Regions from separate parts of the Homo sapiens genome. Here region 2 is linked to region 1. A link means that fine-mapping ties the variant in region 1 to the expression of a gene that starts in the linked region. Tissue or cell type: prefrontal cortex. Region 1 holds a variant in brackets; the other region holds the start of a gene. All regions are shown on one strand. Distances are between the middles of the regions.

Region 1 (15,465 bases):
CCCCACCCATTTGTGGAAAAATTTTCTGCCACAGAACCAGTCCCTGGTGCCAAAAAGGTTGGAGACCACTGAGTTAGAGCCTTTAAAGAAGTGTTTAAGTTAAAATAAGGCCTTTAGGGTAGGCCCTTATTCAATCTCCCTGGTGTCCTCATAAGAGGAGGAAATTTGGACATGTGAAGACATGCCAGGATTCCGTGCGCACTGAGAAAAGACCACGTGAGGGTATCATAAGAAGATGGGCATCTACAAGCCACGGAGAGCGGCCTCAAGAGAAACCAATCTTGCTGACACCTTGATCTTGCACTTCTGGCCTCCAGAACTGTGGGAAGATAAATGCTATTTATTTAAATAGCATTGTTTAAGCCACCCATTTTGGCTTATTTTGTGATGACAAAAGTATTTCTTTATAGCAGCCCTAGCAAAATAACATATAAGCCAAACATTTATAGGACCAAAATGACTTAGTTCTTCCTCATGCACGGCAAACTCTAGTTCCTTCAGTTATCATTTTGTGTCCTCTTTTTTCTGGAAGTCTCAGCCCTAAATTAGTCCCTGAATCCTCTAGACAAAAACTCACTACTCTTTTCCTGTAACAAAGGAATTTGTATGTATGGGTATGTGTGTGTGTGTGTGTGTGTGTGTGTGTGTGGTAAATATCCCATAATCAAAAACTGTTTCCTAGTGAGTTACAGAGACAAAATGCTTGAAAAAGTATGTGCCATCTTGTTACATTCTCTTAATTCTCTTTAGAGTGAGTACAATAAAGTAAAACTTCATTATATCATGGAATATAGTTTGTACAAAATAGTACTACTTCTACATTGAAAGATTAGTTCTGCCTGGATCCAGTACACATGTCATATTTCTGGAAAGTCATTTGACACGAATCAGTCTAAAAAATAAAACAAGCAGGTGCATAATATATTACCCAGAATAAAATAAACATGGCTTCATTTGTAAGTGCCAGAGTATTCGTCCATTAAATCTCCATCAGCTACTGCATCTTTGGCGCCCTCTTGTGTCCATTTTGGGATAGGTTTTTTTCGTGGAATTTGCGAGCCATTCACCCCACGGCATCTCTAATTCAATCCCTCAAAAATGCAAGCGAGCACTCGATAGAAATCAATCTCTCCTTTGTCTACATAAATTATACCAATTGTAAAAATACTATTTGGTTAAAATATATATTATAAGGTTTCAAATTTTAAGTAAACATTTCTATACCCATTTGACTTCCTGAATATTTGAGCTTTTTTCTGTAGATTATTATAGAGAAAAGTTTTTTCTCTTGCTTTTATAGTTAATAGGTATTCATATTTATTTGTTGATCCTTCAGCATTTTAGTTCTAAAATGTAGGTCCCTTAGGTATCCTTTAAAAATTAATTTTTAACTCAGATTTCCACTGAAAAATATTATGTAAAACATTTTTACAAATCAAACCATAAAGCATGTTCTCTGCCATGACTATATCTGTACAGTTTTGTTTGAGATACCAATTGTTAATACCATCATTGCTATTTCCACCAAAAAGATGAATAAATATAAGCAAATTCCCAAAACATGACTTCATGCAGATTAGCTTAGTACATTGGTGATTACAGTACAAAGGTCACATTGCGTGTTAAAGTTAATTTCCCCAATTCTGATCTAATAAGGCATCCACCTTGGTTATTTCCTTGTTTTGTATAGATATCATAAAATATGAATTGGCATCTATATCACAAATCATCTGGGCCTATCCCTATTTCTCATTACTAACATTTAGTTCAAATACCATTCATCAAAATCTAACCACCCAATTTACATTTATACTGTATTCAGATAAATAACCATGTTCATCTGGGGCATGGGCTTTATTTCTCCTGAAGGCATAATTAGGGCCAGGCGTGGTGGCTCATGCCTGTAATACAGCACTTTGGGAGGCTAAGGTGGGAGGATGGCTTGAGCCCAGGTCAAGGCTGCAGTGAGTCATGATTGTGCCACTGCACTCCAACCTGGGCAACAGAGTGAGACCCTGTGTCTCAAGAAAAATTAAAAAATTTAAAAATAAAGGCATCATTAAATTCCCCAAGTAAATTCATTAAAATTTACTCCGTAGGCAAGGGACTGGCAAACTGACAAATAAGGACTATTTCAGAAGTTTCCAAAAGATGCAAGGCAAAATAAATACCTCATAAGTCATCAGCGAGATGGACAACTGTTGAGAACAAACAGAAGCAACTTTACGCTGGAATCAGCAAAAGCTGCTGTGAGGTAGAACAAGAACGTTTGACAGCAAAGTGTGCACCAGCCAGGGACCTTGGACAGATCATCACCAGCAAAACAGGGATAATTCTTACTGTATCCATTGTTAATGGGATAGCACATAAGAAATACTTAAAGAAAAGGGTATGAGTAAAAAGATGCATTTAATGAATTAATGCAGTTTAGATATTTAATATAGGGTTAGAAGCAAATATACAAATAATGCTTTTATTCTTAGAAAACATCTTTATTCTTTCAGACTCTGAGAATTAGTCTAAAGTTGCAGATAAGTACAAAATTACAAACACAAAGCCAGAATTCACCTTTTTGTGGGGGAACATGGGAAGAAGGTAAAGCAAAGTGTCTGTGATTTTGTATCAACCTGGTTAGGCCACAGTGCCCATTTGTTTGGTCAAACATTAGTCTAAATGTAGCTGCAAAGGTTTTTTTTTTTAAATAAACTTTGAATGAAGCAGATTAACCTCCATAATGTGGCCGAGTCTTATTTAATCAGTTGAAGGCCTGAATTCTACAGCAGATTTTGAAAATGCCAATATTCATAACGGCATGAGCCAATTCCTTATAATAAATATTTCTTACACACACTCTCTTTCTCTCCACACACATACACAACACACACACTCACACACACATCCTTTTGGCTTTGTTTCTCTGGAGAACCCTGGCATACGTAATCCATATGTTTTATAAATATTATATATATTTATATTTATATATATATCTTACACATACTCTGTATGCATATATATGGATGCATGTGTGTATTTCTCATAGAACAAGGTCAAAAGTATCCTTGACAAGGGTACTTTTATAAATAGGTTATAGCGTTCTGGCAAAGCGGGAATTAGTTGAGGATTAAGATGTTACAACCTTCTCCAGGCCTGAATGAAACTATGGCCTGAGATTTTCTAATTCCGCAGGAGCTTGCCTCACCCTAACCTCACTGCAAGGTACCAGGTGGGTCATGCACCCCTCATTACACTGAATCTGCCCCTCCTCCCCTCTCTACTGTCACTCTCTAGCCTGTGACCTCCTTTGCCTATGACAGTGTCCTCTCTGGTCAGCCTTATTCCAGTCCTCCCCACACCCTTCTCCCCAGTGCAACCACCACCTTCTCGCCAGAGGAATCAAATCACATCACTCCCTTAAACCTTTGGGTGGCTGTCACTATGCCTCCCCTTTGTCACTGTCATTCTTTTAAAACATAATTACTTGTATTTCCTCAACCACACCCCCATTGTGTACTACTACACGCCTTTACAGAAGTGGCTACCGCTTCTTGGAATGGTCTCCTCTTGTCTTCTCTTCTCCTTCTCATGCAAATCCAGTACAAGCATTGCTGCGTCTGAAAGCCTTCCCAGCCAACCCCTCACAGCAGAATTCACCACTGCCTCTTCCAGGAGGCTGCTTTGCATTGCATCCTGTGATAATAATCAGCCCCTAGTTGATTCATCTTTGCCTACCAAGCACATGGCCCAGTGCCTGGCACACAGTGGGCCCTTGCAGAGTGATTACTTGAGAGAAGTGAATTGAATTCACCAGATGCCTAGGTGCAAGCTGCCATCCTGACTACCTATTAGTGAGAGGGCTGCAGGGGGTGGGGAAGGTGTCTGTTCACATCCCTAGCTGGAGCCAAGGAAAAGATCTTCCATCTTTCCTTGAGGAGTGGTCAGAAAATCTAAAGTTAATGATCTGGTGCCTGCCTGGCTGGGACAAGGGTCACAGGAAGGCTGTGCCTGGGGAGTGTGTAGGGCTGGAATTAGGGGATAAGAAAGAAGACAGGATATCCTGGACTGACAGAGGAAGTGAACTCAAGAAAAACAGAGGCCATCAGGCCTGAGTTTTTGAGAGAAAGATCTGGAGTAACGGAGAACCTGGGAAGTGGTAGCACAAAATAATGGTGATGATAACAGCAGCCATAAGCAAGACTGAAATAGAATGTGTGACAGAAGTTCAGAGGTAGCAGGAAGAGACAGTGAACGAGAAGATACAATTGGAAAACCTTCTGTTGATGGGCGAAGAGCCGGCAAGTGGAGAAGAGGGTGGCGGGTGAAATATTTTTGTTTTTAAATCAATAACTTGTCTTAAAATGACAACTGAACTTGCTATTAATTAATTTTCATACTCATCTTTTTTTGTGTGTTTGTTTTTAGTTTAGTTTGTTTTGTTTTTTGAGATGGAGTCTTGCTCTGTCAACCAGGCTGGAGTGCAGTGGCACAATCTTGGCTCAAGGGATTCTCCTACCTCAGCTTCCTGAGTAGCAGGGACTACAGGCACCCGCCACCATGCCCAGCTAATTTTTTGTATTTTTAGTAGAGACAGTATTTCACCATGTTAGCCAGGATGGTCTCGATCTCCTGACCTTGTGATCCGCTCGCCTCAGCCTCCCAAAGTGCTGGGATTACAAGCGTGAGCCACCACGCCCAGCTTCATATTCATCTTTCATAAAAGCTTCTTTGGGAATGATAAGCCCTCATATGACACAACTTGATCCTCTCTTTGAAGTGTCTATGAATTTTTCATGGCTTCCAACATTAATTATATTGTTTTATCATCACTTCTCTTTTTGGAAACACTCCTAAAAATGTTTTAGAATGTGGGCATGGAAAAAAATTACATTATCTTAAATTACTATGAATGAAGAAGGTAAGAACATTCAAGGAAATGGCAAAGAGGGAATTAAATGCAGGTTTTTTCCAGGTAACTCCAGCAAACACTAACAAAGGGATGACTTGAGAAATCAATAATCTGGTTCTTCTTTGCCTATAGAATCAAGTTGGTTCAAAAATGGAGCCAAACGTTTTACATTAAGAACAACTGGCATACTAAAATAATTATTTATAAGTAATAACATGTTAGTCTGAAACTTTAGATACCAGTCCTGACTCTCAGGACTGGGAAAACGCACTTGGCCCAGCTCAGAAGCCACTGAAACACTGTGGGTTTGGCACCTCATGTCAAGCCCAATCCCTTTGCTATTTGAGTTCATTTATTCTTGGCAAAATATAACTTCCTGCCCCTAAGAAGAAAGATTTTTAAAGTCTCATAAAAATGATTCCAAAGTTTACTTGGACTTCAAAAGGCTCTTACAAAACAACATTTTTATTAGTTAAATTTATGGAATATGGTGCATAAGGATTACATTTTCTTTTATCTTAAATAAATAACAATTAGGGCAAAACCAATGGGATGTGGAGTTGGGAGAAGCTTGGCAAAGAAAAAATCCACAGGGGACCACTTTGCCATGAGTTACAGGAAAAATAGAATCTCCAGAGAGGGAGTGTGCTCTCTCTAGGAACTCTAGAACTGGGACGCAGCTCAGTTTTTCTTCAGATCATCAAAGCCCAGCGCTTACTACCAAGGGAGATGTCCTTACACTAAGGTCTCTGTATAATAGCTCACATCAGGTCTGGTCCGATACCAGAAGGCAAAAAGAACCTGATAATGTGTATTGCTGACATCTTACTGGGTGCTCATGTTCTTCAAAAGATGAAAAGACCGAGTTACCTTCTCCAGTAAAGGCTGAGCACCAGCAGGAAGAGCTGAGGTGTGAACAGGAAAGCCCCAGGTCATGAGTCTGCCTATTTTCACAGCCTGGGCAATACCCAGTCTCAGAAAGAAGATCCCAGGAATGTGGCTCACGCCTTCCCAATGCCCACTCTACTTGATTATTAATCTTAGATTTTAAGTGCTGGGTTAGGTTAAAAGTCTTGAAATTTAGCGCACTAGATTTATTTAGTATAATAGATCTTTGTTAACCCAGCATTCATTGTGTGACTTCCTGAAGATGCCAGATTGTTTAGGAAAGCAAAAATCACCATAACATTAAGTGTTTACTAGTAATCTGACAACTTATAAAAATTAGTCCCCACTCCAGGAGTGCTCCTGGCTGGGTCCATCCCCACATAAAGCCAAGGCTTTGTTCATTAATTTTTCCCCAGATAGTCTGCTGTTGGAAATGTTGAACAGTATAGTGCTACATGCTGCAAATTGATATAAGTCTTGCAAAAGATGCAGGCTTTCACGGTGCCAGTGAAAGTGACGTTGGTGGATCTGCTGGAATTGCAGGCAAAGCCATTCCATATCCTGCCCTGGAGGTGTCTAAACAGACAGCTGCAGAGAGGGACTGCCTAGGGCCCCAGGTGTGATCACGGAGAGCCTGTGCCAGCAAGGCTGATGGCTGAGGAGGTGGTGGGGAGGGGAAACTCAGAATTGGTAAGCGAAAGGAAAACACTCAGAATGGGTTGGGAACATCCTGCAGGTACCAGAAAATGAGGATAATGTGAAAAATATAGTGACAATGATTAAAAAATCAAAGGATCTGACTTAAGGGAATTCTCATGGAAAAGTTGTGATAATTCAAATATTAAATAATTATTATTGTTACATTATAATTAAATAAAAATAAAATTAGTGTTAGGTATAAAATAAAAATAGTATTAGGTAATTGGAATGATTTGATCTATGAAAGATTGAGTTCAAAATCAAAGTCAAAGGAGAAAAGCTAAAAGAAATAGTAAAAAAAAGGAAACTTATAATACAAAAGAAGAATGAAAACAGGATTTATGTTTGTCATTATTTCATGAGGTAAGGGATGTATATATGCCTATATGTATACCAATGTACATACATATGCATATATGAATTATATGCACAAATTTTGCTGCTATATTAGTTTATAAATATGTGTGTATATAATATATATGTTCAGGGTAAGTAGAAAAGAAGAATGGACAGAATAATTGGGAGTGAGCTGAACTAACACAGAAATAGAAGGAACTCTATCAAGAACAGGAAGGGCTGATCAATATTCTGGTCTTGTATAATAACCAGCGGACCCACATTTAACCTCTGATGGTCACACAAAATGACCAAGTAGAAAGAAGGCTCAACAATGTGCTGCAAATGACAAAACAGAAAGAGGGTCCAAAGAGGAGGGCTCATAAAGCAGACTGACTTCCTCATCTCCTAGGAGCCAAAACCTTTAGATAACCCACAAATTCTTATAATATACTAATAAGGAACACACACGTCTAATGATGCTAAAAAAAAGTAGCTCAGTGAATCATAATGTTAGGACGATGGCTATGTACTGGACCATGTGAAGCTGGAAGGATACCTTATTTCTGGGGAAGACATCTAGTTTCAAAAAATTAAAGCCTATATCCCCGATGAGGGCTGAAGACATAACAAGAAAGCCCTGATTATTAATAGACACTCAACCTAATGATCAGTGTGCAGGCTTGAAGCTCCTGAACTAAATAAGCAGGTCTCACACCCACCCAAGAGTTTTGAACTGGACAGCCAAATCTTGTAACTTCTACTGGTCTGAGGCCACATCTCTTTTTACTTTGGGTTAGTAAATGTATTGCTTACTGAAAGCCTAAGGAGGCAACCTCAGGAATAAATGAAAATGAGGATAAACATTGTGGTGAAAATCAAGATAAGGATAAAACTGTCTGCTTAATTGTTCTAGTGGTAAGTGTGTTGAGCACTTTTAGAACCCTGGTTAGTTTGTGTTTGGTCTGTTTTGAAAGATTTTTAATCTTTGTAAGGTAATCTGATCTGTTAAACTTGTGATTTTTTTTTTCTTAGATGGGGCCATGCTCTGTCACCCAGGCTGGAGTGCAGTGGTGTGATCTTGGCTTTGCAACCTCCACATCCCGGGTTCAAGTGATTCTCCTGCCTCAGCCTCCCAAGTAGCTGTGATTACAGGTGCCCGCCACCACACCTGGCTAATTTTGTATTTTTAGTAGAGATGGGGTTTCACCATGTTTACCAGGCTAGTCTTGAACTCCTGACCTCAAGTGATCCACCCACCTTGGCCTCCCAAAGTGCTGGGATTACAGGCGTGAGCCACTGTGCCCAGCCCTAAACTTGTGATTTTAATTGTTTAAGAGTGTTTATATGTACAAGTATTATTTACATGTTGGGGGAAAATTTCTTTTTAAAGTAAATTCCATAAGTAGTATGTTAAAATTTAGTATAATTGCTTATTTTTTAAAATGCTAGTCATTTGATTAATAATTAAGATTAATGAAGTATTATACAAGTGATCTCGTATACCCTTCCACACTCAAAAGGCCATTTCATGGAGAAGAATCTATCTTTGCTCATTCTAAAACTATGCAAAGTTGTAATCTTTACTTATTTTTTTAAGTATAACTTATTTTTATACATTTCATTCCCTTTTCCTAGGTAAAGTTTCTCGTAAATTAGCTTGAACTTCTTGTACATCAGTTTATGTACAAGGTAGCCTGGGATGGATCTTCCCCCTAATTCTATTTCCAATACTTCCCAGGTCAAAACTTTTTAAAACATAAATAGGGAAGGACATAGCAACGGCTTTTGTAGTTTCTTTTAGAAGGCAGAGCTGAGCAAACTTTTCAATGTATCAACATGAAAAGACATGGCTGGCCAGGTGCGGTGGCTTATGCCTGCAATCCCAGCACTTTGGGAGGCCGAGGCAGGTGGATTGCTTGAGACCAGGAGTTCAAGACCAGCCTGGCCAACATGGCAGAACTCCATCTCTACTAAAAATACACAAAAATTAGCCAGGTGTGAGGTGCATGCCTGGACATTCAAGGAAATGGCAAAGAGGGAATTAAATGCAAGTTTTTTCCAGGTAACTCCAGCAAACACTAACAAAGGGATGACTTGAGAAATCAATAATCTGGTTCTTCTTTGCCTGTAGAACCAAGTTGGTTCAAAAAAGGAGCCAAATATTTTACATTAAGAACAACTGGCATACTAAAATAATTATTTATATGTATTCTATTTCCAATACTTCCCAGGTCAAAACTGTGATCCCTGCTACTTGGGAGGCTGAGACACAAGAATTGCTTGAATCCAGG[A/G]GGCGGAGGTTGCAGTGAACCAAGATCATGCCACTGAACTCCAGCCTGGGTGACAGAGCAAGAGTCTGTCTCAAAAAAAAAAAAAAGAAAAGAAAAAGATATTGCTTAGAAAAGTAACTTGAGTCCTGTTGAGCCTAAGTAAAGGACAATAATGGAAGTTTCTAGTCTGCAAAATATGAAGATGCCCCTCAGAGACACAGCTGTGGGTGCCTCTCACAAGACAGATGTTCAGGAAAACTGGGCTGTTGCTCTGGAATTTTCAATGAGTTATTTTACTTGTTTTTGCCTCAGTTTACAGAAAATAAACTGGCAACAATATCTCCTTGTTATTGTGAGGATAAAATAAAAGGTGTGACATTTCTATTTTAAATGTATAAAATGCCGAAAAATTGGAGGCAACTGGAAGGTACAGTAGTGGATGTGAGGTAGTAAGGGGGAAAAAAGGATATGTAAATCACCTAAGATGAAATAGACATTCAGAAGGCCGTAACGTGAAGTGTGAGTGACACTGATTCGCTAAAAATCCTATATAGTGTCTTAAAACAGCAGCAGTAACAACAACAAAGTTTATTTGAGAGGAGGAATTCTGGAAAAAAGCTTCTTTCAAAAAAAAAAAAAGAGTCTTCTAGTGCTCAGACAGTTCGTTCCTCTGCAAAGGCGGGTTACTCTGTTGGGGTCCATTATAGTTCTGAGGATGAATAGGACAGGACAAGGAGATGGTTCCTGGCCCCTGTTCTCCTGCCACAGATCTGTCCCACCTCCCAGGCTCCATGCATACAGTGACAGAGATGGAAAGCCCAGAACCAGTCCCTTTAATGCACTTATTTGCAAAACAAGATGTCACTATGCAGCAGAGTGACAGTCCTTTCCCCTGGAACTGTCCCAGAGTTCTCCAAGCTGAAGCCAGGGCTACATTCACCATCTCAGACTCCTGCTGAGCTAAGTAACCACCCTCTCCTACCTTCTCTTCAGGAGCCCTGGCACCCTTGCTCTGGGGAGAGTTTGAAGAGCAACCTGAAAGTTCCCACAGTTTTTCCTCAAATCTGGGTTTCCATGAGCATGGGCCACCAGTCGGGAGAGCCACATGCCTGCCCTTGCCTGGCTCAAGACTGTCACTCTGTCAGATTCATATCGCTCTCTGACCCTTAGCCTTCCAGTCTGGATCTTGACCTTGAACTGGACTCTGTAGGAAGTTCTTAACATTAAAGGAAGTTATTTATCTCTTTTCAACTAACCCAAGCACTTTCTAGCACCTTTTAGCAGTTTAAGCTCTATGACTCCATTGGATAAAATGCTGGGGAGCAGGACATTGACACAGTCACAGAATATCACACACGGAATCCTCATTCATTCCCCCAGGGAAACAGCACCTGTAGAAGACAAATCTGGTAGACACTACTGTGACAGGTGATTTTATATGTCAGCTTGACTAGGCCACAGGATGTGTAGACATTTGTCAAATTTTTTTTTATATGTCTGTGAGGATGTTTCTGGATGAGATTAACATTGAATCAGTAGACTGAGTAAAGAAGACCGCCCTCCCCAGTGGGGGTGTCCCTCATCCAACCTGTGGAAGCCCTACATAGAACAAAAAGGCTGAACCTCCCCCAAAATACGGTGATCTCAAGCTGCCTGACTTCTGGTGCTGGAACATTGTTCTTTTTCTGCCTTCCGACTCAAACTGAAAATCAGCTCATCTTGTATCCTGAGTCTGCTGGCTTCCAGACTGAACTATACATTGACTCTCCCAGGTTTCCAGCTTGCAACTGCTGGTCTTGGGACTTCTCAGCCTCCATAATCATGCATTAGCCAATTTCTATATAGATCTAGAAATTCATATATATATATGTGTGTGTGTGTGTGTATGTGTGTGTGTGTGTGTACGCATATATATACAGTCATGAATCACTGAGCAGTGGGCATACCTTCTGAGAAATGTGTCATTAGGCACTGTTATCATTGTGTGAACATCATAGTGTACTTACACACACCTAGACGGTATAGCCTACAACACACCTAGGCTATATAGTATAACTTGTTGCTGGTAGATTACAAACCTGTACAACCTGTTACTGTACTGAATACTGTAGGCAATTGTAAAACAATGGTAAGTATTTGTGTATCTAAACATAGCTAACCATAGAAAAGGTACAGTAAAAATACTGTATAAGAGATAAAACATGGTGTGCCTGTATAGGTTGCTTACCATAAATAAAGCTTGCAGGTTGGAAGTTACTCTGGGTGAGTCAGTGAGTAAATGATGAGTGAATGTGAGGCCCTTGGACATCACTGTACCCTACTGTAGACTTTATAAACACTGTACACTTAGGTTACCCTAAATCTATTTTAAAATTGTTTTCTTTCTTCAATAATAAATTACCCTTAGCTTACTGTAACATTTTTACTTGACAAACCTTTTAATTTTTAAAATTTTCTGACTGTTATAATAATACTTAGCCTGAAATACAAATGAATTGTCTAAGTGTACAAAAATATTTTCTCTCTTTATTTTTATTTTATGAGCTCATTTCTATTTTTAATTCTTTTAACTTTTCAAAATTTTTTATCAAAAACTAAGACTCAAACACACATTAGCCTAGGCCTACAGAGGGTCAGGATCATCAACATCACTGTCTTTCCCCTCCATATCTTCTCCCACTGGAAGGTCTTCAGGGGCAATAACATGCAAGAACTGTCATCTGTGATAACAATGCCTTCTTTTGGAATACCCCCTGAAGGACACACCTGATGCTGTTTTACAGTTAATTTTTTTATATTAGTAGAAGGAGTACACTACAAAATAATGATCGAAAGTATAGTAAATACATAAGCCGGTAACATAGTCATTTATTTTCATTATCAAGGACTATTTACTATACACGATTGTATGTGCTAGATTTTTATATGACTGTCAGCATAGTAGGTTTGTTTGCACCAGAATCACCACAGACACAAGAGTAATGCATTGAGTTATGATGCTACAATGGCAGTAACAAGTCGGCTGATAGGAATTTCTCAGCTCCATAATAATTGTGCAAGACTGCCATCATATATTCACTCTACTGTTGACCAAAACCTCATTATACAGCATATGACTGTCTATATATAAACAAAGAACCATATTTTTGAGGAATTTTAATTTTTTATTTAAGAGTAAAGTGTAATAAGGGTAAAGTGTCTGTGATTTGTTTAAATTCTTCAGAAAAAAAGGAAGAAAAACAGGATAGAAAAAACAATACAGCAGAATCTTGCTAAATGAGTGATGCCAATGTCGGCAAGTTGGGTGATGGATACATTGGGGTTCACTGCAAACTTTATATTTGTGTATGTTTGAAAGCTTTTATAATAAAAATTAAATACAGTATATATTAAATATGTATGCCACTTAGCACTTAATCAAAATTTTTTATCTCGCCTTGTTAGATTTTATTATTTTATCTTGAACAAGTAGCATCAACATAGCCTGGGCAATATAGTCAGACCTCGTCTCTACAAAAAATTTTAAAAATCAGCTGAGCAGGCTGGGCGCGATGGCTCACGCCTGTAATCCCAGAACTTTTGGGGCCGAGGCGGGCTAATCACCTGAGGTCAGGAGTTCGAGACCAGCCTGGCCAACGTGGAGAAACCCCGTCTCTACTAAAAATACAAAAAAATAGCCGGGCATGGTGGCGCATGCCTGTAATTCCAGCTACTTGGGAGGCTGAGGCAGGAGAATCGCTTGAATCTGTGAGGCGGAGGTTGTGGTGAGCCGAGATCGGGCCATTGCGCTCCAGCCTGGGCAACAAGAGCAAAACTCCATCTCAAAAAAAAAAAAAAAAAAACAGCTAAGCATAGTGGTGGACCACACGTAGTTCCACCTACTCAGAAGGCTGGGGTGGGAGGATTGCTTGAACCTGGGAAGTGAAAGTTGCAGTGAGCCAAGATCACGCCACTGAACTCTAGCCTGGGTGACAGACAAGACCCTGTCCCCCCCCACCAAAAAAAAACTCAATATAAGAAGTATTGCTGGTGAACATATAGTGCCCTGCACCTAGAAAAATGAAGCTACTTTCAAGAGATTAGTAGGAGAAGGGATCATTGATGATCCCTTGAAGCCAGGGTCTTAATGAAATTTGGAATGGGAAGCAGCTCAGTTATTAAAAAAAAAAAAAAAAAGATACCCTTGCTGGCACAAGGACGAAGGGTAAGTTATCACTTCCCTTTTTCTAGTGTTAAGTAAATTACATTTAACAAAGATGACTCTTGTCAATTTTGTATCACTTTGACTCTTACGTACTTATGCAGTAAGTTTCTTAGCAGCACTGCTTGCTATAACTTAAACTAGAGAGTTAATAGCAGAAATGCAGCTGTATCTGAAATATGCTACAACTACTCCTCTCAGGAAGGATTTGGAGGAGTAACTTTTAAATGCTTGGCTCAACATCTTAAAGACAAGTTTCTGTTAAGGTGAGAAGACAACAGTATAGAATGAAAAGCTTACACAGCTGGATTCTAAGGCTGACTCCCCAATTAACTAATTATGTGACTTTAAACCAATCACTTACTTTCTCCAACTCTCTCCAGGGTTCTTTGTTTTTAATGAAATGGGCTGGTGGGTGAATTGGACTCTTTCAAGGAGCTCTCCCAGGACAAAGACATGGTCATGCATATTCACCAGACCATATCCAGCATCTAGCACAGCTCCTCAAACATAAGAGGATTCCAATTCGTATTTTAAGAGAACAAAAAAAACCAGAATATCAAATAATTGGTTACATCCAAAAACCTGTCAATCCGGAAAATTTCTCACATTCGTCTACCTCCTTGACCTGGATCTTTTCAGGTTTATCACGTTTTCCCCCAAGAGAGCCTCCAGAAGTGAAGACGGCGTATAATGCAATATGACCACTAGATGGCAGCACGAACCCACCTCAGAATTATCCCTAAAGCGGCCACAGACCCTAGACCAGCTGTTTCAACTGAGCCTGCACAACTGAGCAGACTGTGAATAGTTAAGACTGCCTTGGCTGGTGTCTTTCCCTATACCCTTCCTTTTGTTTTAATTATAAGAAATCTATATGAGTTTCACTATTGATAGGAACATAAATGATCTGTTGTTTCAGCCCTAGGATATTGATATTGCCTTTATATAAATTGTTGATATTTTGTTCATCATGGATTTCCTTTCATTAATTTTGATTAATGCAAATTTTAAGTTACTTTCACCTTAGTCCTGAAAAAACAAGACTGCTTCCAGGGACCATCAAAATAATCTTACAGAGAGACTAGGTAGTATGCATCTGTGGGAGATGCATCTGTGCACACTGGAGACCTCCAGTATATACAGCAGGAGCTCAGTAACAATGTTTTTCAGTGAACCAGGACAAGGATATTCAGTGTATGGGTACTTAAAAAAATGAATGCATGCTCAAAAGGTGAGACCTTCCTTTCCTACTACATGTTTTTTTTCTTTCTTTCTTTTTTTTTTTTTTTTCACTAATTCATGGTCTTCTTCATCACCTCTCTCCTCCTCCTTCCAGAGCTCCATCTGCTTCCCTGGGTACTACATTGTGAGACACTTTGCTCCCTTCCTTTTTATTTATTTATTTTTATTCATTGATTGATTGACTGATTGAGACACGGTCTTGCTCTGTTGCCAGGCTGGAGTGCAGTGGTGTGATCACAGCTCACTGCACCCTTGACCTCCTGGGCTCAAGGGATCCTCCTGCCTCAGCCCCGAGTAGCTGGGACTAAAGGCACCCACCACCACACCCAGCTAATTTTTGTTTTTTTGGTTTATTTGTAGAGATGGGGTCTTGCCATGTTAGCCAGGCTGGTCTCAAACTCCTGGGCTACAGTGATTCCCCACCTAAGCCCCCCAAAGTGTTGGGATTACGGGCACGAGCCACTGCACCCGGCCACCCTGCCCCTTTTAAAAATCTCCTTTCTATTCTCTCTCTGCTGGCCCACCTTACCCAGAGAAGTTTTCTTTAGTTCCATCTCCTGTTCTATTTCATTTTTTCTTAGATCCCAGAGGAATTAAGAAGATGGGGTGGCTGGGAAGGGAAATGGGGAGAATCTCAGAGAATGGAAGGATCAGAGAGCTGGAAGCCAAATCTAGACTCTAAGCTCCTGGGGCACAGAACATCCCCACCAGACTTAGCACAGTGCCTTGCACAAAACAGGTGTACAATAAATATCCATTTGTATGGATGATTACTTGTGTTAATTAGCAATGTGCTCATACAAATAATGAAAAGTCATACAGTAATTTTAAACAATGTCCTATATACAACTATTTCAAGGACTCATGCAAGTGACAACATCCATTAACACTGTAGCTAATTACCTTTGTGCCTCTCCTCT
Region 2 (15,465 bases), 71 kb before region 1:
GAAATGCAGATCAACAACACAGAAGCCTTGGGCTATTAAGTGTGCCCCTTCATACACAATGTAGGCTTGTTACAATACAGAAAGCTACAGACCTCGTGGACACTCCCAAATACCTGCCAAGTCATGCTGTCCTGGAAAAAAACTATAGTCAAGACGAGAAGAAACAACTCTGTAAAGATAAACTCAAGCTCAATTTCAGAAATATGGCCTAGCTCTACGAAGAACGAGCTGAGAAACACATCTGTTATGTAGCAGGCAAAGAATGGTGTACATGTGCAAAAGAAAATGCTATGACAAAGGAAGAGAGGTAAAGCTGAGAATAGCAAAATGCATGCTTCCAGTCTAAAAGACACAGAATGCATGAATGCTTCTTCTTGCACAGGAAAAGATCTCTTCATTTTTATAGCCAAACTTTCAACAAATATTCACTTAATACCACATGCTGGATCCATAAGACATACAAAGTTCTGTGGATAAGTTTCTCTTGGCACCAGGCAGAGGTAACTTTGATTTTAGTTTCACTATTATCAAGTGCCTTTCACAATGTGTTAATTTCACAGTTGTCTTTACATGTTCCTAAATGGTTCTCCACAACTATGGAGGGCTTATGAGAAAAGAAATCTACCTGTCTATGGACAAGTTCCCAATATAGACCAAACCGTATATACGACTTCCAGGGAGCAGAGATTATATTATCATCAGTCATAAGTATGTACCTATAAAGGTTGGGTCATCATTCTCCCCCTCAAACATGACCCAAATTTGTGCATGTCAGTTCTCACAGCCAGTGCATGCTCTTAATATTGAACATGAGGAATAGAAAGAGCCCCATGTTTGAAATTAGACAAGAAAACTGGACAATGATAACGTATGTGGGATAGTGTCCATGTATATTAAATTGTAACAATATTGAAAATTTTATTTCCAATAAAAGAAATGTCTTTTTAATTCTGTTAAAGTAAATGATTCATAGGATGCCTGCAATGCCATTCCTGATCAATTCATTGTTTTCCTTTTTATCTCCAGTTGCCAAGTGTATAGAATGTGACTTCGTAGATGGATGGATGGATGGATGGATGGATGGATGGATGGATGGATGGATGATTAGCTGTGATTAATTATATATTTGCCTCTTAATATTTATTCATTTAAATTACCAAACTTTCCACTATTATCTGAAATATATTCCCTGACATTTTTTAAGAACTTTATTTTCTTCTCTTTTATTAATTTTCAAATGCTACATTTCTTCCACTCTTCCACAATCCAGTACATTCAGGATTTCTCAGCTCCTAAAAAAGGGCACATGGAGCCCCTGTTGCACCTCTCCCTACCATTAAAGACTTGGGTTTTAATACTTTCCATTCATGCATACATCTTTCTATCTGCTTAAGTCCTATCAACAAAATTAAACATCTCTCCTAAAAGCTGCCTCTGCCAAGGGCTCTGATTGATTTTTCTCTGCTAAATGATCAAGTAATAATGATCACTTAATCATTCAAAGACTTCTTGATGACTTGTGCCTAGAGAGCCAAGGCAGGGAAGCTCCTTCATGCCAAGTGTCATCTAGTTGCTGTGCAGGAGCTGAGTAATGTCAGTGGCAAGCCATGGCAGGGGAAGAAAATAGAAAATTGGTGTATGTAACAGCATTTCACAAAGGTTAAAAGCTCAATGTAAATATAATGTCATCAGGAAAAAAACAGGTAGCTTAGTGGTTAAGAGTATGGACCCTGGCAACCATCTTCCGGGGTTCGTCATTCTGGCTGGGTCACTCACTAGCTGTGTGACCTTTAGCAAGTGACTTGCTGTCTCTGTGTCATAATTTCCTCTGTAAAATGAGTGTGATAATTGTGCCTACCTCTTAGAGCTAACGAGATAATTAAATTCATTGAGTAATGTGAAGTGCTTTGAATAGTGCCTGGCACAAAGTACTCAAATGTTAACAGTTATTATCATTTTTATTATAATAATTATTTTTTATTATTATTGCATTGAAGATGGAACAAAAAGGAAAAACAAGATAAAGAAAAGAACATAGAAAAGCCCAGAATGGGGAGAGTGAAAAAACATGGCACCAGCTTTTGACAGTCAAAGGCTGCTTTGTGCTATCATGTTGTGTTTAATTCAAATCTATCCCCCACCCCACAGGTACAAGGAAAACTTATGAACAAAGTAGTTCACTAAAATTCTCAAAACAATATGTCAATGGCAAACCTCCTAACTTATTTTTCAAGAAATATTCATTTTCTGCAACTGCCTAAAAACTAAGTAAAATGTCCCATTTTCTTTAAGTATAAAATATTAGAAATATCATCAACTCTTCAGTAGCTTACATCTTCAGATTAACTCTACAACCAAAACTTCTTCCTGTAAGTAGCCCCCAAAATAGTCTGTTTTTTTCTTTATTCCCCAGTCAAAGTATCAGTCCAGGCTCTGAATACTCCTTTACTTTGAAATCTGACTTTTCTAAACAACAGATACTGAGAGTTTTATTACTCTTCTACGATGCAAAAATATACATTACTTTCTTCTAGAAATTCTATTGCCTTATGTAAAAGGATGACTTTCCTTTCAATGTTCACAAGGTTTGTCTTCAAGTGGACCTAAATTCTAACATTTCTTCAATCTTTCTTATCTGACTGTTCTATTCTGTTCTAGTCCTCTCTATTGTACTCTCTTTTGTTCAAAGAATCCTTTATCTCCTGTTTTCAACTCACCAACATTAATCTGATTTTACCACCTACATTTTCAGTGCCACGCTTGTTCACATTCATTTGACAGGTATTTATTGTGTGTCTACTATTGTGTATCCTAGCATTGCAGATACAGCAGAGAATAAAAATAGACAACATTTCTACTCTCACATAGCTTATGTTTTAGCTGGGAAAGGCACACAACAAATAAATAAATATATAATGTCTAGGTGGTAATGGGTTTTAAAGAAAACTTAAGCAGACTAAGAGGACACCCACTAGAGGCAGAACTATCTAGACAGCTTGGTTAGAGAGGGCCCTTCTGATATGATGATATTTGAATAGATGTCTGAATAAGGTGAGGGGGTAAAAGATGTAAAAATCTGATGTATCATCTTAGGTAGAAGCCCAGGTATCAGCATCTTTAACATAAGGAAAATTACTTAACTTCCATAAGCCTCAGTTTTCTTCTCTGTAAAATAGCAATGATGATAACACCACTGTTTTGGGGTTATTGTAAAAATTAGAGCTAATGCCTGTAAAAGATTAGAAAAGGACCCAGTGCAATAAATAATCATCATTATCTCACACGGCTATGTAAGAAAGTTTAAAAATTTAGGATACACCAACAATACTTTCTGAAAATTTAGGATACACCCATAATGCTTTCTGAAAACTACCTAAAAATCATTTCAGAGTTTATAGCAAATTAAGTAGCTTCTTAAACACAAGTCTGAAAAACCAACAAATCTCTGAGTCCCAGTATTCTAATTTTCTAGATGTAAGATCTTGGGAAGCTTATACAATTTCTCCAAATTTGAATTTCTTTGTCTGTATAATGGGTTGTATTAAGGCCGAGCACAGTGGCTCATGCCTGTAATCCCAGCACTTTGGGAGGCTGAGGCAGGAGAATCACTAGAGCCCAGGAGTTCAAGACCGGCCTGGGCAACATGGCAAGACCCCATCTCTACTAAAAATATAAAAAATTAGCCTGGCATGGTAGCATGCATCGGTAGTCCCAGCTATCCAGATGGCTGAGGTGGGGAAGATTGCTTGAGCCAGGGAGGTCGAGGCTGCCATAAGCAGTGATAATGCCACTGCACTCTAGCCTGGACAACAGTGTGACACCCTGTCTCAAAAAAAAAAAATAAAAAGTTGATGTATGAAAAAGGCCTAGCACAATGCTTGACCTAAACAAATGTTGATTTCTTTTTCCACAGCTTTTTCTACATTTACTTAGATAGGGTAGCACAATTTGTTCATATAATTTGATGCACATAATTAATTTCTTCATATAATTTGATGCATGGAATTAAACAAGTTACCTTTTATAGATGAAATATTTAAAGGTGATCCCATATGGTCACAATAACCTTGAGGTTATTGGGGTATTGGGAGAAGGCAGAGAGGAGCAAGAAAATTAAGTAGTTGGCCTGTGACCAACTGCTTCTACCAAATACCCCAAAAGTAGCCTTTTACAGAATTTTTCTCTATTAAAAACAAAAAAGTTTTTCCTCAAGAAAGTTTGTTTACGTCAGGAGAGATTTATCATTTTACCAAAAGTGGGGAAGTCCTTGAAAACACCCAAAGTTTTCCTTACTAAAAATTCCTCATGAAGTTTGACTTTCCTAAACTCCCAAAATTCCTAATCCCATAAAAAAAATGGCCCCCAAAAGGGGAGGGGATGGTGAGGCCTCCAAAAATTACTACATCTTCAACTATCTGGCTGAATGTTGAAATAAAAGATTTTTAAAATAAAAAATAAAAATTATTGCATCCAATATTGATTAAAGGCAAAAAGACCAATGTATTCAAAGTCAACTGAAGAAAACAAAGGGTGCAAACACAAGATAAAGTAGCATCACTTTGAGGAACTAATTTAAACCAGAAAGCAAGCTTTGAAACAGAAAAGACAAAATACAATTCAAATCCTGGCTGAGTTCCAAATTTGGACATAAATCCTTTCACAGATGATATGCTAAAATGGGTTTGTTCATTCAGCAACTATTACGAAGAGCCTACTGCATGTCAGTTATCTCTCTGGGCACTGGGGAAGCAAAAGCAGACACAACAGACAAAACCCCTGCCCTTTGGGGCGTACACATGGATGGCGACAAGAGATGATACACAGGTGAGAGATATGGCAAGTCAGATGGTGATAAGTGCCATGGAAAAAAATAAAGCCAGAAAGTTGTGTGAAATGCCGAGTCCACTAGGGAGGGTTGCTTTTTTTGTTTTTTTTTTTTTTAATACAGAGTCTTGCTCTGTCACCCAGGCTGGAATGCAGTGGCACAATCTTGGCTCACTGCAACCTCTGCCTCCTGGGTTCAAGCAATTCTCCTGCCTTAGCCTCCCGAGTAGCTGGGACTACAGGCGTGCACCACCATACCCAGCTATTTTTTGTATTTTTAGTAGAGACGGGGTTTCACCATGTTAGCCAGGCTGGTCTTGAACTCCTGACCTCAGGCAATCCACCTGCCTCGGCCTCCCAAAGTACTGGGATTACAGGTGTGAGCCACCGCGCCCAGCTGAGGGCTGCTATTTTTAAGAGTGGTCAGAGACACCTACGCAGTACATAGATGACTTTGGGGAAAGATATTATGCAAGTGAGGAAGTGAGTCATGAAGGTATCAGGGAAAGGAGCACTCTAGGAAGAGAAAATAACAAATCCCTTGGAGGCAGGGATTTTCCTGGATTATCAAGCAAGTGCAAAGTGGGACATGTGGCTGGCGTGAAGTGAGCCAGGGAGCAGAGTAAGGGAAGAAGCCAAGAGGCATCTCAGAGGTCAGATCCAGTAGAGCCCTGGTGTCATTAACAGCACTGTGGCCGTCACTCTGTTCCGTAGAGAGCCACTGGTGGGTTTTGAGAAAGGGACTGAAATGAACTGATATTTAACCTCTATGGATTTGATGTCGGTGTATTGGAGTGAGGAGAAATGGACACAGGAAATGATGACAGCGGCTTGGATTACTGTCTTAAAACTGAGGTTTTATCCTGAGAAAATTCCCTTTTCTAAGACAGGAAGGACTGTTAAGAAGTGGCCTGTTTTGTGAGATTAGGATGGAGATCAGTTTGAGAAGCCCGTTGGACATCCAAACAGCAATGTCCAGTGAAAAAGAAGTTAAATACACATGCCAGGAGTTGAGGGAAGTAGTCCTGGCTGGAAAGAAAAAATTGGGATTTTTCAGAATATAGACAGTATGTAAAGCCTGAGAGATGAGATTAACCTAGAAAGCGAGTGTAGAGAGAGACACCTGAGCTTCCCTGGGTTCAAGAAGATGAGATACAGGCTGGGTGTGGTGGCTCACACCTGTAATCCCAATACCTTGGGAGGCCAAGCTGGGAGGATTGCTTGAGTCCAGGAGTTCCAGACCAGCCTAGGCAACACAGCAAGATCCCATCTTCATTTAAAAAAATATATATTTTTTAAGCTTTTTAAAAGAAGATGAGACACAGCTAGCAAAGGAGTGGAATAAGAGCTGCTGGTGAGGGAGGAAGACAACCAGAGCCATGTGAAAGAAATCATTTAAAGAGGAGTGAGTGATCCCCTATGGGGAAAAATAAAATGCTGCTTCTATGTCAATCAAGATGAGGGCTGAGTCACTGTATAGGAGGCAGCAATAAAAAAAATAAAGTAAAAGATGAGGGCTGAGGACTGACCATTAGGTTTAGCATCATGGAGGTCCTTGATTTTAGGAACAGAGCATCAGTGGAGCAGGAAAGGAAAGAAGGAGGGGTGGAAAGCCTAGGACATCAGATACAGACAGCCCTTTGAGAGGTTCTGCTCTAAAATGGACTGAAAAATGGCCAGGTGCGGTGGGGCATGCCTGTAGTCCCAGCTACTCGGGAGACTGAGGTGGGAGGATCCCTTGAGCCCAGGAGTTCAAGACCAACCCAGACAACATAGTGAGAGCCAGTCTCAAAAAAAATAAAATTAAATAAAAAATAAAATGAATTGAGAAATGGAGAGGCTGCAGGAGAAGTGGGGTGAAGAGAGATAGGAGAAATTACAGCAGAGAAAGGGAACGTTTGATGATAAGGAAAAGGACGAAGCAACTGCTGAAGTGGCATCCAGTGTCAGGCTCCAGAGGAGTGAGGGGCTCTCTGATCAAGAGGAGGGGCTGGTCTCAAAGAGGGTGAGTAGAGTACAACCATGGTAACAGCAGGACGCAGAAGCACTGGCACGGAGGCAAGTAAGAGGCTGAATGTGGAAAGTCAACCCCCAACGTGTTGGACCAGTTAATGCTGCTGGTCTCTCTGAGAGGTAACTATGGAAATCTATAATAAGCCAAAGCAGCTGCACCCACAGCTGATGTGAACCTGGAAGATACAGCCATGTGAGAGGACCACGTCATTATTATGGAAGGGGTTCTTAGAATTGCCACCCAAGTAGATTCTGTTGGAGATGGGAGGAGAAAGGGAGGAAAGGGAGTAGAGAAGGCCACACACAATCTTAAATTCAATATTTCACTCCCGTTAAAGATAAGCTGTTTATAAGCTCCAGTGTAGGGCATGTAATTCTATGTAAAAACTCTGTGGTTCCTCTTCCCACATGTAAATCATGATCACTCTACATTCTGCTCTCTGGGAGCCCTCAAGGCAAAGAGACAACAAGACTCGAGGTATAGTAATAAAAGTCTGGGTATTATAAAATCCACCCTGAGCTCCAAGAAAAGAATAGAAAGAAGGAAGCTCTGAAAAGTACTAATTTACCAAAGTTCAATGCAGTTTTGTAAATTTTTATTAACATCCTCGGAAATCCAAATGCCCATCTTGAAACTGAGGGTTTTTTTCCTCAATTATGGCTATATATGCTTTAAAGATAAACTATGAATTCTCTTTAAACTAAGTGCCTTGATAAAATAATGAGTATTAAATACATTTCAGACCACAGAAAGGACTTATCACAAGTCTTTGTGGTAGCTGAGGAGTGCCCCCTACAGACTGATATGCACAATGCAAGCAGATGAAGAGGAAAGAACTGAGCAGCAGTATTTCAGGATTCTCAATAAGGCATCAATGAAAAAAGGTAAGAAACCTTTGCTGAACAAAATGTGACACTAAAGGCTAGGAAATATATGGACACTATGAATTCTTGTTTTTACATATTTGTAAACAGCAAGAAATGAAAAACCTTTGTTTGGACTTTTCTTCTTTTTGACTCTCACCACCGATTGCCCGCAACTGAAGAATGTATTAGTAAAGTCTGTTTTGTTCTTTGGTTACTTCATATCAATATTTGAATACAAATGAAAATAGTAAAATAGTAAAAAAGATATTTTATTCTGCTGTGCAAAAACAACTACCTGGATTCAGAAATTATTTACTTCAGATGTCGGCAACAAAAATAAAACGTAACATATCTATTAAAATGAAGTTAAATGAATTCTAGTTTGAGGTTTTATTCCTTTTTGTAAAGACTCCACAGAGAAGTATTTGCCTTCTATGAATGTTATCGCTTAAAATGTTTATGTTTTTCAAACTAAAAATCACAAAAAGACATGAAAAACATATCCTATGTTTATGAATAGATTTAAAAATATATAAATCTATAAATGTCAAAATATATTACTACACTAAGATTCAATATTACACACTATATAAAATATATTACAATAATATTTGAGAGGCAGAAAGTTATATAGTATATAACCTCATCATAGTTAATAAATTTCATACATAACAATATATTCCAGTTTAATTTTCCATTTGTAAGAGAAAGGAGACAAAATATAATTCAAAACCTTTACATTTTTTATTAAAGATTTTTAGAAACGAATACTGGTGCAATTTAAATGTACCAATATGTTTGATGTCTTTAAGTTAAACTCAGAATTTTATAAATACTTAGCAATGGACAGAATAGTATTTATCCAAATTAACAGCCTTTTACATGATCTTTGAATAAATGTAGATCTTTGGAAAAATGCGTTTAACATCATAAAATGTTCATTTAGACTCAATTTCACATACACTCAGGAGATATACATAAATGTATGTGATTAAATTGATAAATTACACTTCCAAGCATTTTCATAAAGAATGTTTTTCACACTCAGAAAGAGACAATTAGGGTCATGTTTTGATGGCTTCTTTTTCTTATGGAATTTAATAAGATATAATCAAATATTTATATATTGCTTCTTCTAAAATTTTTTAAATTGCATAATAATGAAATTAGAAAATATATTCTTTCCTGTAGGTAATAAAAGCCAATGTACTTACAAAAAACTGCTTGCTATATTAATCTTCCTAAGTGTTCTGGTTATTGACCTAATAATCACAATTGTCTCTTCTTTCCCTCTTCTAATAATATATACATGATGCATTCAGATGTTAAAATGCAGCACTTGTGGAAATGTCTGTTAAAAAATATTAACATATAGGCCCCAAAAATGTATAGTACATTCGAATTAATGAAACTGACTGTTTTTACATGTAATTAACCTCTTGAATGCACTCACTCTCATTATAGAATCCTTGCCAAAATGCAGTATTGCATTTTGGAAGGAATGAAGGGGAAGGGGAGGAGAGGGGAGGGGAGAGGAGAGTAGGGGAGAAGAAAGAAGGAAGAGAGAAAGAGGAAGACAGAGGGAAGGGATTAGGCAGGTCAGCCAACTGATTTAGGTAAATGAATCCACGTTTATAAACATGCACGTTGTAAAATTAACAATTTTCAGAAGAAAGGAAATAATTTACAAGAATAGCATTGATTCAGAAATAAATGTTATTATTCCTAGATAACAAATACAAATAAAAAATCAAATGCCTTAAATATACAATGTTGATTATATGGTCTTATCTTGTGGAAATGTACAAAAGTACAATTAAGATAATTTTGAATAAACTTTTATTCAAATTGAAAACACAATTTTATGTTGCATATACTCCTTTGGTGTTTAGAAGATATCATAAATTCAGTTACTTCCTTATGCCCCAGAAAATGCGGATATTTTTTAGAAAGGCTATTGCTTTCATACTGTTTCTAACATGAAAAACGCTACCTTTTTTGGCTAATACAAAGAAACCACAATTAACAGTGAAACCATAAATACTTTCTGTGTTAACCACAAATGGCCTTTCCCATAGAGAAATGGCTTACATGTGTTCTAAATGTGTTTGGTTTCGTTTTGTATGGAAGGAGCTGTGGGTATGTTTTTATCTAAGAAAAGAATATGGCATGCACATGCACAACTTTCTAAAATGAGAAACACTCATTGAATTTAATCGGAGTTTCGTCTGGGGCGGAAATTCAGAATTAAGCTCCATGGGTGATGATTTTGGATTATCTGGACAGGACTTCAGGGTCTACTTGCCAAACTTTCTTGGACTCTCAGTGCAACATGAGGCAGAAGGGAGCTTCGCCTGTGTCCTATTATTGTATCTGGTGTAACCATGGGCCGATCTCACCAGGCATAGCCTTCACACACTTTCACTTTATCAGTTTCGTTTGAGTCAGTCCCATACTCAACTGTCCACTGCTCGTGACTCTGCTCTGCTTGAGTCTTTTGTGTGTGCCTGTGTGTGTGTAACCGTACCTCATTTCTTCAGTATTACACATCCTGTGAATATCAGGGAGTCTATGGAAATCTACACGTTGATGCTTGAGTATTACACATCCTGTGAATATCAGGAAGTCTATGGAAATCTACACATGTTGATGTTTATAATCATTTTTCTATTTGAATATAACATGTGCTGGGTCATCTTTATAAATGATGGCAACACTCTGAGAATACATAAGAAAGAGAAAGTTTCTTTCAAAAATGTGACCTTTGCTCACTTCTATTACTGAGTCTCCTTGGAAAAGATCTAAATGGAAATTAAACCAAATTTTTGTTTTGTAGTTTTTCAGTGGTCATATATAAAATAAAAAAATGAGGAAATCAAATTTAACAAATGAACAACTCAGGATTTGTTCAGAATACTCTCTACCCAGTTGAATTTATACCCACAAAATAGCACATCTAAGCAAAAAGATTTTCTCCATAGAAAGCATTTTTTAGAAAACTTTCTGTAAATACGTACCCCACTAAAGATTCATCTAGTCCTCTGTTATCTTAATAACCTATAGAACTATTCCAAAGAATAAAAAGGCAGCCTTCTTATCATTTGCAAGCTTAAGACAATAAACTGAACATTTGTTTTCTCATTTTGTTTACTTTATATGTGCTAAGATGATTACTAATTTTAAAAGAAGAAAACTATAATCTTCGTGGCCCTGTAAATTATTTGATTTTTAAAAAGCTAAGTATTCATAGCATTGAAACTAGATTTTTAAAAAAGAAAACATTCAGTTCAGAAATAGTAATAAAACCCTTGTTTGACATCATGTAGACAAAGCTATTAATTGACCTATGAATTTATTGCTTTTATGTGAATTTGTGATTAATTTGAATATGGTTGTAAGTAATGCTAATGATCTGTGATTCAAAATTAGGGTTATTTTGGTTGGTTGGTTGATTTGTTTTCATGAGGATGAGGCCTGGGAGTGTGTGGAGGCATCAGTGGGGGTGGGTCCCCTTGCCTAGAGGGAGATATAATGGAATTATCCGCAGCTATAGGTCTTTTTCTACCAGAGTAACTGTCCATTTACCCCCTTATGTTGAGCTATTAAATATACATAATAAAACTTGGAAAGTCTTTTATTCTGCTTTCACCCAATTACATTTTTAAAAATGCATTCAAATATATACAGTCAAAAAACGTGTATTAGTCTTTGGTATGTAGGCTTCTCTGTAACTAAGATAGCTACCTATATTTAAAATATTGTCAGATATATACTACTAAAAGGGCATGTATCATCAGATATACTCTTATTTTGATTACAGTTTAAAACTTGATTACACTTAAAAACCTAAAATATGTTCTTTGTGAGAATTTTCAATATTTGGGGAATGAATGGCCACCATGGGTGAATGTTGAGAATTCTTTTGAAAGGAAATTTCTTACATTCATTTTATAAATCAGGTGAATGCAAAAGATAAGAGTGTATGTTTTTAATACATACAGTTTGATTACAGTTAAAAACTTCAGACAAGGTACATAAAAGGTACAAGGTACATAAAAATAAAATCTTAAACTAAGGAGATAAACCATAAACACTTTTGGCTAATCCTAAGGTGTTTCTTAAAAAGGAATTTTAAGGTGATTTTTTAAAATTCTAGAAATAATCTTAGTGTAAGATGGTGTTATAAGATATTAGAAACCTTAAAAGCTGCCTTATAACACCATCTTATACTTCTCAATATATTTCCATTTACCTTTCCATCTGCAATACTAACAAAAGAAAACAAATATAAGTGCATCACATATAATCAAGACCATTTTTACTATCACATGAATATTAAAACAATAATGTCTTACAAACAGCATCAGTCTTATAAATGAAGTTTTAAAAACATACACTCTCATCTTTTGCATTCACTTGATTTATAAAATGAATGTAAGAAATTTCCTGTCAAAAGAATTCTCAACATTCACCCATGGTTGCCATTCATTTCCCAAATATTGAAAATTCTCATAAAGAACACATTTTAGGTTTATTGTCAACCTCATTTGATGTTTCTTAAAGTGAGGTCCATGAACCACTTACATCACAATTTATTTCTGAAACTTGTTAAAATGCAGATCGGAATCTCTGAGGTGGGGCCTGGGAATATTCATTTAACCATCCCTGAAGGGCTTCTGACACGTTCTGATGTTGGAAACACCTTCAAATGGCAGTTGCAGGAGCACAGGGCCTTATTAACCTATCTGTCCCCTGCACCTGGGCCTGTACCTGGCACAGAAGTGCGCTGAGCAGAGTGTAGTTGAGACGCATAACTGGCCTGCTGCTTGGATGACCTGAGACCACAGCAGTCCTTCTCAGCTCACAGCTGGTCAGGGTAGGTGCCTTCATCCTCAAGTTCCCCACAGCATGCACCACGCAGCCCGTTTGGGATGCATGGGCACCAAGGAACCCTCGCTTTGTGTGTTACTGAACTGACCTGACATTCTAACCAGAAAATAAATTCTTGCAGGAGAAAGATTTGTTTTGTTTCTTTTGTTCATTCAACATTCATGGTATACATGTTTATTGAGCACTTACTCCATGCCAAATGCCATGTTTAGAACTGGTATGGAGCAAGAACAAAATAGACATATTTTTAGACCACTGGAAACCCCTTGACTCCTGGAATGGTTCTCAGGAGGGATAATCCTGTACCTAAGTGGCAATTTAGACTTATAGTGTGTATTTCCATCTACTAGAATAGTGGTGTCAGAGCATTTACAGCTTACATACATAGTATCTCCTTATATACTTCCCTTTTATATTTCCTACATATTACAGTTACAACATCATAGATCCTCTTTCAATGATGTGCACAAGTAGGTAAGTATTATCTGTTAATTTCATTTAAGATTACTATATTGGGCATCATAAAATATATTTTTGTGATGGATAATTGGGTATAATATGGTTGAAAACCATTAACTTGGTGAATTTTTTAATATTAACTTGAAGATTTCCTTAGCACTAACCAGAGAGATATTTCCAAAGTATTTATAAAAACACATAACTTAACAGATTAAGTAATATAATTTCACTGTGCTGTAAACTTTCCTTTAGTCAATAAAAGCTTTCACATAGTTCTCAGATATATGCATCAGTGGTCTGTAGTTTAATACCATGTCTACATGACTAGGTGACCAAGAGGTTTCATGGTTTGTCAGCTAATTAAGTTAACTATGGCCAGCACTTACTATATCACCCTGAGAACATTCTGACCAACTAGGTGGTGACCATTGACTAAATGACTTTTTTAAAAATCAAACTGCCCACATTAATGTAACTATACTACCTAGACTCAGTTCCATTCCAAAGAAGCAAGCAAAAATTACAAAAAAAGTAGGTGAGATTTATCCCACAAGGAAGGAATATTCTTGATATTTTCTTACACTTGAAGGACAAAGAAAAGAAATGAAAATTACTCAGATGCTATTAAAAAGCAATAATAATTCTATACCTTGGGAGCTCTTTCCTTCATTGAATTCTAAATCACAGAGACACTAACAAAGTTCTACTTTCTTTCTATGAATGATCATTACTGCAATATCTTTAAATACTTATTCTGGCTTACACTGATGCTAAAACAACAGCATCTGATACAGCCCTTGTATTTGTAATTCAGGTATAGCAGGAGTAATCCATCTTTGGCATTAGAAAATATGCTTTATCAGCAAATGAAGAAGGAAAAACGACACCAAATGATGATAAAGGAATGACCCAGAGTAGTTCCATTGAGCTTTTATCACCATACTGTGTGAAGACCATCACTGTATAAGGAATGGCTTTTCCCACCTAAGCCCTCTCCCTCGAGTCAAACTTGTGTTTCCCTTTTAATGAGCAGTAACCACCAGGATGCCTATTACTTAGCTTGCCAGAATGACTACAGATTTATAGGAAAGAGGTAAAAGTAAACACAAATAATTTAAAATGCATTAAGTAGGAAATGCCTTCTTCAACTAAACTATGTTGTACATTTTATCAAAAATGTCAGAAAATATTTGTAAATCTTATATTTTCCTTTCTACAAGAAAAGTGGCACCCATGTCACTCAGTTCAGCAGTGTGAACAGTTGAATGAAATGGAAAACTCTTAAAAGTAGTGAGTAGCTTTTACTAAACTAAGAGTTCTTGAAAGTCAAAAAAAAAGGTTGTATGAAGTGCATCTTTTTCTTAAAATTATTTTTTCAAGACTTTTGATTACCTGGGCCACCATCAATTTACTATATGCATTGATGTAACCATCTATTTTCACTCAACCAGTAGAAAGTAGAAACAATGGATGTAATGTGTTAAGACAAAGGCCTAGGACAGTGGGACATGTTAGGCCATAAACATGTATATATGTGAAGTGCAGAGTTATTCCCTTTCAAAGGATGATGTGGAACACAAGACAAACTCCTACGCTGTGTGCAGTAGTGTCTGAGCCATGCAGATGCAGAGTGCTCAGGATTCTGCAGTATTTGATTGATTTTCATTTATTCCAATACCTCCTCCTACAGCTATTGTTTTTAGTCTGAGCTCTGATACAAAAGAGCTGCAACCCAGGAGGAACAGATATTATGGAGAGCTTCAGAGCTACTTACTCCTTGACAGAACAGTGATGAGAACTAGAAAACTTTGGAAGTCTATAAACCAGAAAGCACCATCTCAGCACAGCCCACAATTCTCTCTGCTTCAGCCCAAGATTTCCAACCCATTCCTTTTCCTTCTTTCCTCGGGAGGATAACGGAAGAAAAATAGCTTATGTATTTCCATATGAGTATCCCCAAAAGAGAAACAAGGAGTAAATAAGAGGTAGTCATAATTATCTGCCTCATTCCATCCCCAACTTTAATCCTCCTGACCCCAAAGACAGAATGCACATGGATTTAATTGGGATCCCAGGACAAAAAATGGCTTGTCAAAAAAGATCATGGTCTCAGGTCTTAGCATTCATACCTACCACAGAGCCCTGCTGAAGGGCAGGAGTGGCCGTTGGCTGGCAGTGTGTTTGAGGGATCTAATCCAGGTTAAACTGTGTGTGTTGTGATGAGCAATTTCACAAAGACATCCTCACTCCTCAAAACTCATGTATTCCTGCAGGTTCATGGGAAAAATGTCAAAAAGGCAACTGCCATATCCAGCATTTAACAAAATCATATTGGTTTCCACTATTTAGCTATAAACAGTCACTAAGGCTTTAAGCCCTTCATTCTTTCTCTTTACCTCCTACCACTTTCTC

Which allele goes with the higher level. Alleles are on the strand shown, and positions count from the first base shown. SD is a standard deviation of normalised expression in the study named.
As copies of G replace A in region 1, the expression in prefrontal cortex of the gene that starts at base 7,101 in region 2 goes down (moderate effect, 0.72 SD a copy in ROSMAP).

The links.
Region 2: LINC01923 starts here. The variant in region 1 is fine-mapped to the expression of LINC01923 in prefrontal cortex (ROSMAP, PIP 0.95).

Annotation. Positions count from the first base shown.
Region 1 is chr2:198,295,412-198,310,876 of GRCh38, reverse strand. LINC01923 (long intergenic non-protein coding RNA 1923) reads left to right here. Exons shown (of 3, transcript NR_110267.1): 3 at 9,061-11,514. Among named protein-coding and RNA genes, the nearest start is that of LINC01923, 72 kb to the left of the region's middle. RefSeq lists a silencer at 878-1,172. The variant A/G (reference allele first, on the strand shown) is at 9,121.
Region 2 is chr2:198,366,733-198,382,197 of GRCh38, reverse strand. LINC01923 (long intergenic non-protein coding RNA 1923) reads left to right here and starts at 7,101. Exons shown (of 3, transcript NR_110267.1): 1 at 7,101-7,315; 2 at 7,581-7,722.